2 separate regions of the Homo sapiens genome follow, and region 2 is linked to region 1. Evidence: fine-mapped expression QTL. Tissue or cell type: testis. Region 1 holds a variant in brackets; the other region holds the start of a gene. All regions are shown on one strand. Distances are from middle to middle.

Evidence for each region. PIP is the estimated chance that this variant, and not a neighbour inherited with it, causes the effect.
Region 2: PXDNL starts here. The variant in region 1 is fine-mapped to the expression of PXDNL in testis (GTEx, PIP above 0.99).

The regions. Positions count from the first base shown.
Region 1 is chr8:51,358,174-51,363,173 of GRCh38, forward strand. All of the region lies in intron 19 of PXDNL (peroxidasin like), which reads right to left. Among named protein-coding and RNA genes, the nearest start is that of PXDNL, 450 kb to the right of the region's middle. The variant GA/G (reference allele first, on the strand shown) is at 2,442.
Region 2 is chr8:51,807,482-51,813,020 of GRCh38, forward strand. PXDNL (peroxidasin like) reads right to left here and starts at 1,964. Exons shown (of 23, transcript NM_144651.5): 1 at 1,700-1,964. The coding sequence starts at 1,863. RefSeq lists enhancers at 1,337-1,859, 1,860-2,381.

The DNA of each region.
Region 1 (5,000 bases):
GAAACCTAATGAATTATCTTTAAATGAAATAGATTCTCAGATGATGTGGGCTCAGAGCCCATGGGATTTCATCTTCTCTCTTCCCAGGCTAAAAGACAGGAGGGGGCTAGCTGAAACAGTAAACAGGTAGTACCAGTTTTGCTTTTTACTTACGATAATCCTGAGGATCCTTCTAAGAGCTTTTTCGTCTTCAAAGAAATCAGTGTTTTAGAACTGAATTCCAGGTCACCCCTTGGTTTCAGATCAAAACTGGTTTTCTCAGACCTTGTGTCGGTACATTCCTGGCCCCCATAATAGTGTGTAAAAAAATGATTAAACAGGGTCTTCTGTGACCTTGAAAAACCAAATATGCTGATTAATGCTGTCAGACAGGAAAGCTCACATGCCTGTGCTCTCCCTGAAGAGCTCAGGCCTTGATCAGCATGTACCTCAACCAAAGACAAGAGGAATGGTCTCGCCTGGCCCCAGCATGAGGTCCTCATCACAGGACGCTCATTGCAGCACGCGGACAATGAGCTCACAGGGATTTGGGAGCACGGTGCCCTGAAGATGAGCACCCCAAAGATGGGCCTTCTTCCCCTCCCCCACAACCCCAGGGGACAGGCCTCCCCTGGGCAAGTGGCATAGGAATATAGAGGCCACAGTGTGCTTGAGAGGACAGGGGAACCCTGGGGAAAAATGCAGCACACAATCCTCCTAAAGGCTGCAGGCCTGGGGGAACCACGCCCAGCCCTGCTCAACTGAGGACTCAGAGCAGCTTACCTCTGAAAGGGCTTCATGTTCAGATTTCTGGCCGAGAGCTTCTGCCCTCAGAGTGTGCAGTGTGTCTCCACTTCTCAGAAAGCCAAGAATGAACTGAATAAGTGGGTTGTCTTCCTGCTTTAGCCTACGGGAGGCTGATGTCATAGCCCAGCCCAGTGAACCTGTCTCCTTCTGCTAGGTTTCTGCCATGGAGATAAACTTGACAACTTGAGCCAAGATAAAAAAAGTCACTGTCCATGAAAGGGTCCCGAATAGTTATCAGAGAGAGGAGCCACTTTCTCAGTGAAAACATGACCCAAGAGACAGAGATGACAAAAGAACATCTGTTTAAAATAGTAACAATAATAAATAATAATAATACAAACAGGGCATTTCCAATGCTGCAGAAAATGATGTCATAAAACTTAAACAGATGATCAGATGATGTTGGAACTAAGAAGTTAAATAGATAAATTTAAAAGGAGGTTGATCTCTGTTGAGACTGATTAGTGAATTTGATATAAGTGGTCATGGGCAAAAAATATATCAGAGCATTTAGCAAAAATATAAAAGAGAGTAATATGAAGGAAAAGAAAAGAGATTTGGAGGGTAGACCTAATGCTCAAATAAAGAACGTTTCAGAAGGAAAAAAAAATATTTGGAGGACACGTACAGATATATACAGTAAATAAGGAAATATATGTATAAATTTCCCCTTGTTGAAGAAATATGCAAATCTATGAATTGAAATTGTTCCCTAAGTTTGACACTGGATTGATAAGGAAAGTTACATCTAAGCATATTCTGCTCTAATTCTGAACAAAAGATCTTACGGAATCCCATTAAAAAAGCATTAGAGAACCCTATTTAAGCAGGGGAAAAAAAATCCAGACTGGCACCTATCGCACCTATCCATCCAATTGCAATATAAGAAACTAGAAATCAGGAAAGGAACACTGGCAAAGAATGGGAAAGACCACAGTCCAGGAATCCTATGCAAGTAAGATGCTCTTCACTGTTCAGCGGGAAAAAGATACTTGAGTACAAAATGCCATTTGTAGAATACTTTACACAAGTACTCAATTTGAAAGCATTACTTGATAGGCCACTTTAGGAAAAGAGAAAAGCAAAAAAAAAAAAAAAAGCAATGAGTAGTAAAGGCAAGCATTTTCCACCTATATATATGCACACACCTATACATGTGTACACTTACTCATGTGTATCCCAGACACGTATATACCTATACATGCATGTATACAACCATTCACGTATACACTTTTGTGTACACATATAAACATACCCATACATGTATACAAATATGCATGTACATACCCATATGTGTACACATCTATGCATGCATACACTCAAACATGCATACACCCATACATGTGCATGCTTACACATGTACACACATCTGCATATACACACCTGTACATGCCTATACATACAATACCTATTCATGCATATGACTATACATGTACATATGCATAACTTAAACATGCATGTATCATACGTGCACATAGCTATACATGCCTATACAATACATACATCTACATGTACATGTTTATGCATACACATGTATATATGTACACAACTACACATGCACACACCCATATGTGTACACACTCATGCATACACATACCTATCCACGTACACAGTTATATACACACATACATACGCATGTTGTTAAATTAGGTTTA[GA/G]CCAAAGCTACTTCCTTACATATTTTAAGTTCAGCCTAAATGTTTTTCCAGACATAGTGAACTGTAACCTAACTGGATGTGTAAACAGACTGTAGTCTACTCTTGTGTCAATCGCTAAGTTTTGGCCAATCAAAGGCAGCCAACTCTTTCAAACTGTGTTCAATAATGCAAATGCTGGTCTGGAACCAATCTGGCTGTTTCTGTACCTCACTTCTGTTTTCTGTACATCAGTTCTCTTTTTCTGTCCGTAAATCTTCTTCCACCACATGGCTGTGCTGGAGTCTCTGAGCCTACTCTGGCTCAGGAGTCTTCTTAATTCACAAATCATTCTTTACTCAGTTAAATTTGCATAAGGTTTTTCTTTTAACAGATGGTGTCAGAAGTGGGACCTGAAGTAGAACTTCCTCCGATGCCCAGAAGCAACATGTGACCAAGTGAGATCCCTGCCAGGCCCACTGTGGCCACTGCTTTCTCACAGCAACTGGGGATCATGGTATTCTCTCTCAGATTCCAAAGCTCCACGGATTTGTTTTTAGCTCTCTGAGTTTGAGCAAATTTTTTTATCTGAACTGGGTTCAGAAAACACAACAGAAACTGGACTGGATGCAGAATCACGTTGGATCTGATATTAACTGGCTTGGATCCAGTTAGAGGCCTCTTATGTCTGACCCAGTCAGACAGAAACTGATAATAAATGGAAATATTGCAGAAGGTATAAATTTCAGCTTTTGCAAATTCACAGGGATTTTTGTGTTCTACCCCTTCCTTGCACTTTTCTCTTTTTGGTTGCTCAGGTAGAAAAAAAATCATTGACTAAGTTGATCAAGGAGATCTGATAGCCAAAGCCAAGATGTAAGGTAAAAAGGAGATCCTTAGTTTCTAAAGAACTGAATAATCCACCTTCCAGCTATGCCTACATTTGCATGTATAAATATCAGACTCTGGAAGCAGCAAACACTTATAGAAGTGGTAAAATCTTACTAAAGGTAATTTAAAATTAGAATGCAATGTTCCAAATGAATAATACCACACTTTAAGCAGTGCATCTGAAAATGAGAATTCCTGGCTAGGTGCAGTGGCTCACGCCTGTAATCTCAGCACTTTGAGAGGCCAAGGCAGGTGGATTACTTAAGGTCAGGAGTTTGAGACCAGCCTGGCTAACATGGTGAAACCCCATCTCTACTAAAAATACAAAAATTAGGCAGGAGTGATAGTGGACACCTGTAGTCCCAGCTACTTGGGAGGCTGAGGCAGGAGAATTACTTGAACCGCAGGTCTTGCCACTGCACACCAGCCTGGGCAACAGAGTGAGATTCCATCTCAAAAAAAAAAAAAAAAAAAAAAAAAAAAGAAAAGAAAAGAAAAAGAAAATGAGAATTCTTAAATTAGTCTTAACTAGGGATGCCTATTGATAGGCAAAAGCTTCTAAAAAGATTTTAATATCTTTACTGTTTTTTAAAAGAGACTTTTTACAAATGGCAAATAAAAAGTTTAAGTGACTAATTGATAAGAAAATATCTGTTAACATTTTGGTTTAGTTATTATTCTGCCCCAAAGGCAAAAAGAAAGCTATCCTAAAGTGTTTACAAAAGATAAGACCTCCGGTAAAGTAGGCTTGCTTCTTTCTCACAGCAATCCATGCTGAATCCAGTCATGGAAAATGCTTTCTTTGCTCTATTCCTTAATGGGCTCCATGCTGAACTCAGTAATTTTAGCTAAGAAATAGTAGCTAAGTTAAAAAGAACACCCATGGAACTAAAATATGCCTTTCTGGAATCTAACTGGCTATCTTTAAACCTTTTTGTAAAAAAACCTACATTTATAAAGGAAATCTCCATTTTTAAGGATATCTGCCTATGTACATTAGAAACTCTTGCCATTGTTTTCAATTTACATAACAAGTCAAACCTTTTTTAAAGTGCTTTTCAGACTATCTTGTCTTAACTGAACTTTTACTTCCACTACTTTTTTTTTGGTTTGAGCTGATGATACAATATTTAGGTCTAAAGTCTTAGCTCTGTGCTGTTGAAATACAGATTTTCTTGTTTGGCCTGGGAGTTGGCCCTTTAGAAGTACAGATTTGGAATTGCCTGGCTGGCAGTTGCTTAGGGCAATGAAGCATGTGATTGAAAGAGGGATAGTCTAAAGAGAGAAAGGAAAAATTATTTATAAGCTAGCTTTATGAAAACTAGAAGATCTGCTTCTGTGTTCATATGTGTACTATATATGTTAAGTGTATGTGATAAAATTTGGTAAATAAAACTAGTTTTTAAATTGTTGGCAAAATATGGTTTCAAAATTGTCAGTTAAATATAAGTAGGTACTTGTTTGATTTGACTGTGAGCTTACGGTTTGGTTTTGAGAGTCTGGATTCAGTGATCTGGACAGATGGCCATAGTGAGGCCTGGGGCAAAGTTCTCAGTTCCTAGAACAGCAGCTACCAGCCAGAATCAAGCCCAACATGACCCGTTCTTCCCTGGCCCAGTTTTGCCTCCTGGCTATTCTGGGAAGGGTTGTATCCTCCAGGCATCCTCCTCACAGCTGTCTTCCGTCCTGAC
Region 2 (5,539 bases), 450 kb after region 1:
GGGTGGGGACACAGATCCAAACCATATCAAACACTGTTAGCATCTCCATTTTTACAGATTAGGAAACTGTGACACCAAGAAGTTAAGAATTTGTCCAAGGCAACACATTTTGTAAGTGGTGGCACCAGACTCCCAGACAGGAATCTAGCCAAGGGCCTGAGAATCCACCATTAAGCTTTATTTTTAAACATAGTGGAAGGCTCTGCATGACAACACTGACAACATCACTTCAGTTCTGCTCATTACATTTAGAGGTGTGTGTCTAATGCAAGCTAATCTCTTCTTTGAAACACCTAGGAAACAAAATTTAGGTCGAGTTGTACCTCATGTAGCTCCAAGATACTTCATTAGACAAGCAGCCCCTTCTCCAAGGCTTTGCTGCTATCTACCAAAAAACTGTCATTACAAAAGGACAAATGGCTGGTTCTGAGTCTGAAGGCACTTGCAGAACTGTGCTGTCCACATAGCAATAAGCAGTGCTCCCAAGTTCAAGAATCCTTTCAGTTATTACAGTAAGACGTATTTTGATATCTGCATGCATATAAAATTAATGAAATGCTTTATAGAAATGAAAATCTATGGATAATATGTCATTTTCTATGTAAATACCATCAAATTGGACTTTTTATTACCAAGTCCTCATTTCACGATTATGACTGACAAATGTGTGGCAATGATCCTCTTAAACATTTATATCTCAAAATTCCAGGAATTTTAAGCTATTTCCCTCTGCCCAAGAATGGACTTGAAACACTGCAAGCAGTTTTGTCTTCCATGAACATGACACAACCCACAAAATATTTATTATAGAGCAGGAAACCTCTTTAGTCTGCATCTTTCAGCATTTTTCCTTTTCTTCTTTTATTTTTTCTTAAATTTTTGAATTTGTCGTCTTTTTCTTTCTTTAAAAATAGACCCTAGAAACAGATCCTTTTCTTCTTTTGTGGTGATTTGCCCTTCTAATTATCTAATTATGACTTAATTTAATCTAAATAAATCTAAATGTTTGGGTTTATTATCTGAATATTAAAGATGAGAAGATAGGATTTGAACTCAGACCTGTTTGACTTCCAAATTCTGGTTTGCCCTACTATCCCGTAATGCCTCCTAGATGCCGATTAGTCTAAGCGGCTGCTCCACAAGGCTTTTAAGCATTCAAGAACTCTACTGGACCATTTGAGGGTCTGTTCTGGAGACAGACAGTGCTTCAAGTGCTGAGGGCTCAGGACTTCACCCTCCCAGGAGGTACACACAGTACAAAGCCTAACAATTTGTCAGCACATAATCAATTGAAACCACACTCTAAAGTTAAATTAGTTCCTTCCAAATGGGGCAGACACGTGCTGACCAATTAAGAGGCCCAAAGACTTGGGAGTAGAGGATGAATAGGAATAAATTGAGAAAGTATGCAGGAAAATTATTGAAGGAAGAATGAAGACGAGAATTCTCAATGCTAAGTTCTGGAAGATGCTGGAAGAGAACTGAATCCAAAACAAATATATTTATGTCAACTCATCATTGCTTACATTTTCTAGTCTAACAGAGCAGAACCATGAAATTGTTTGAAAAGTGAAAAGCCTCTTCTAAGTATACAAGCAGGGAGAGCATTAGGAATCGTAAATTAAAAGGACACAGGTCCTAGCAGAGAAGCAATGAAGCATTGGGGAAGAGGGTTTCTGGGGAATTTATGTGAACTTACAGAACTGTGGTCTGCTGTGGTACCTGAGGAATGTGGTCCAGCATCAAGTGCATGCAGCGGACGGTGCTCTTAAAGCAAAGGCACCGGCTGGGGCAGGGCAACCCTGGCAGGCACCACCCGGCCAGGAGAAAGAGAGTGGTCCAGCAGAACAGTCTGGGCTCCATCGCTCCATTCGCTGCTGGCCACGCGAAGAAGCAGCCGGAGGGAGAGCAGCAGCTGCAGCTGCAGCAGCAACCGCAGTGGTGGTGATGGTGGCTGCTGGACTGAGCCAAGTTTGGGAGCCGTGGTGGAAAGCAGCTCCCAGGGAAAGGACACCCCTCTGACCAATCCAGGAGGAGGGATATCACATTACAGGGCTGAGGGCACAAGCAGCTCTAGGAAGCACTAGACTCCCAGAGGCGAGGACGAGAAGCTTTTCAATGCAAAAGCCTCTTTCTAAAACACCGTGTTTTAGGCAGCATAATGCAAACAAACTTTTCCAAAATTACTTCCACTGCGCATTTGATGAAAAACCCGACCTCTTAGCCTCCAGCTGTCCTCTTGAAGCCCAAGTTGATTAAGAATGTATTGAAACAATGCAGAACAGCTTTTCTTCTTTTTTATCTGGTAACATTACCAAACCCTAAAGGGCAGGCAGAGTTCTAATTCGTTCATCTAGGTGCACATATTCTTTCTTTATTCCAAACTATGCTCTTTAATAAAAATTGTTTCATTTCCTTCTATATATTCTGCTGCTGAAACCCAACACATTTCACTCATGTAAGACTCAAACGGGCTACTTCTGATTTCTTCTTTTAACGTTTAAATTTATATGCTTAAAACCATGAACTCACATACCTCCTTCAAGAGGATACAACTGATGGACAAACCTAAGTATGTATATGTAAAGTCAAACAGATGCAAGCTCCCTCAGGACACACTGGCAGCAGTGGTCTTGCTGGTTGCAGACTTTTCATCAGCAGTTTGAACTGGCCATCTTTCCCTGAAGTGAGCAGCACCTCGTTGAGGACGTGTCTGAAAACTTAATAAATATGAAAACATCTACTTTTTGGTCATTCTGTAAGCAGGTATTTTTAAACAGATTTTTGGCTTTATCTTTAAAGACTAACATTTTCAAACAAAAATGTTTTAAATCCATAAAAGTAATAGAAAACAAATTAAAACTTGCATGGTCAATCCCAGATGATCAGACTAGTAGACCAATCTTAAGAGGAAAATAAGTTCATCCTTGTCTCTGCAGAAATGTTTCAGTCCCTTTACATTCTACTGTAGGCGAATACTGCCCTCTTTTGGCAAAATGTTCATATCTAAATATGTGATTTTGGGGAGATTAAAATGTAAAAAGATCTAAAAAACAAAACTAATCTCCATGAACAAGAATGATTTATTTTAAACTTTACATTTGACATTGTTCACATGACTTTTATTGTCCAAGTATACCAATAAAGCCAAAAAACGAAATTTATTCCTTTAAATCCCAACAATCACTATGCTCTTGGCAGTGCCTGTGATTTGGAGGACATAGACAAGACCTGCAGGTTTGTGCCTTGTTTGCAGTTCAAAATATAAAATACAAAAAATATAAATAATATAAAATATATAAAATACAAAAATATAAAAATATCTTGCATTCATAAAGTAGACTTAAAAAGGGTAGGGACTCAGAAATATGTAAGTTCAGGAGGGAGAAAAAGGCAAGACATGCGGTTCTAAAAGTCATTGAGCTAAGGGTGTATAATAATTAGGTCGAAGGAAAAAAATTCTGCAAGTTTTTGTGCCTTGTTTTCAGTTCGAATTATAAAAAAAAATCTAGCATTCATAAAGCTTTTTTTTTTTTTTTTTTTGAGATGGAGTCTCACTCTGTTGCCAGGCTAGAGTGCAATGGCGCAATCTTGGCTCACTGCAACCTCTGCCTTCCAGGTTCAAGCGATTCTCCTGCCTCAGCCTCCTGAGTAGCTGGGATTACAGGTGCCTGTCACCACACCTGGTTAATTTTTTGTATTTTAGTAGAGACAGGGTTTCACCATGTTGACCAGGATGGTCTCGATCTCCTGACCTTGTGATCTACCCGCTCTGGCCTCCCAAAGTGCTGGGATTACAGGGGTGAGCCACCGCACGCAGCCCATAAAGCATTTTTTTTACAGAAAAAAAAATACAAAAAACTTTCCACTTTAGAAACCTAAACTTATGTTGAATGAAAAAAAAATCTACTGATTACCAACTGTCAGTACAGGACTAAGAACTGCAAGGCATGGCCCTGCTCAGGAAGTCCTTTTGGATAGTGACTTAGGACAACTTTCCAGCTGAAAACGACTAAATGCGCTAATTTATTAAAATACCTTTAAAATTGCATAAATGCATCAATGTGCTATTAATGAGGAAATCAGTAAGACATATACAAGAGTCCAAAAAATGAAGTGAACATAAGAAGCCAGCAAGGTGGGTAAACAATGAAGGCCGATGCAGCTTGAGACTGTTCAACCTGTGAAAAGAACTGCAGGAATTGGAGTAGCAGGGATACAGGAAAAAGAAAAGTCCTTTCTTATGAGAGAGTCTTATTTCAAAAATCTCCTGTATAAAGCCACAGCCATATCTTAAGGATGAACTAGAAATAATTCTGCCCCCTGCCTCCACTTCCACCCACCCACCTACCTATACAACCCAGAAGACACAAGTAAAATGACCTATTTCAAAGCTTGCTACGGGGAGGCAGCAAACAAATCTTCCTGGAGGCGTGCTATCTCCAAAGTAGCCTTCACATGGATTTTTGGGCCACTCTACTTGGATGGCACAAAAAACTTTTAGGTGGAGCATTTAAAAAGGTCATAAGTTGGCAGTGCTCCTTGGCAAAAACAACCTGGGGCCTCTAATAATTCCCACAGTTTACAATACAAGCTCAGTCAAAACCCACAAAATACAAAAGAAACAGAAACAGTGTTATGAAAGCTAGCAATCAAACCTTATGAACATGAGCCCACTTTGAGCGTTCACATACTGGAATCCAACATAGAATAGAATTAGGCAGTATGTTTACAGAGTTGAACATATTAATAAAGAGTAGAAGACCATAAAAACAAACAGGCAGACTTGAAAACACAGAACTATAAACTAAAATACAACAAGCATTAAAACTCAATGTAAAGGTTTAACAGCAGATTTAAAGCAACTAAAGAGAAGATTCGTGATAAGAAGATATTATCTAAGGAAATCTAGATTTCAATGCTGAGAAACATAAAGTTGAGACAACATTTGTAAGAAAAAACACAGCCAAGAATTTCTAGAACTGATGAAAGAGATGAACCCGCACAGCTACAAGAATAGGCAGAATAAATGAAAAGAAATTCATACCCAGGCACATTATATCAAACTACAGAAAATTAACAGTGCCAAGACAAGAATATCAACAATGTCAAGATGAAATCTTTAAAGCACACAGAAGTAAAAGACAGATGACCTTCAAAGGAATGGCTGTCAGTTGACATAATAGCTACAATGAAAGCCAGAATGCAAAGAAATCATAATTCTTGTGTTTTAAAGTGTTGATTTAAAATTCTATAACAAATGGACATTTTTTTTCAAGAACAAAGTCAAAATAAAACATTTTCAGACAGAAAAAAATAAGAGTTAGCTACAGTCTTTCATTAAAATAATTTGAAAAGATGTACTTTAGGCAAAAGGAAATTGAGATGGTCCAAAATGAAGAAGAAATAATGAGCAAAAAACAAGTGTAAGTGGGAGTAAAACTAAGCATTGGTTAGATAAATAATAGTTATGGTGTACCACAGGGGCTTAAAATTATATAGTTCAAACACAATAGACTAGCATATAATTTTGAGGTAA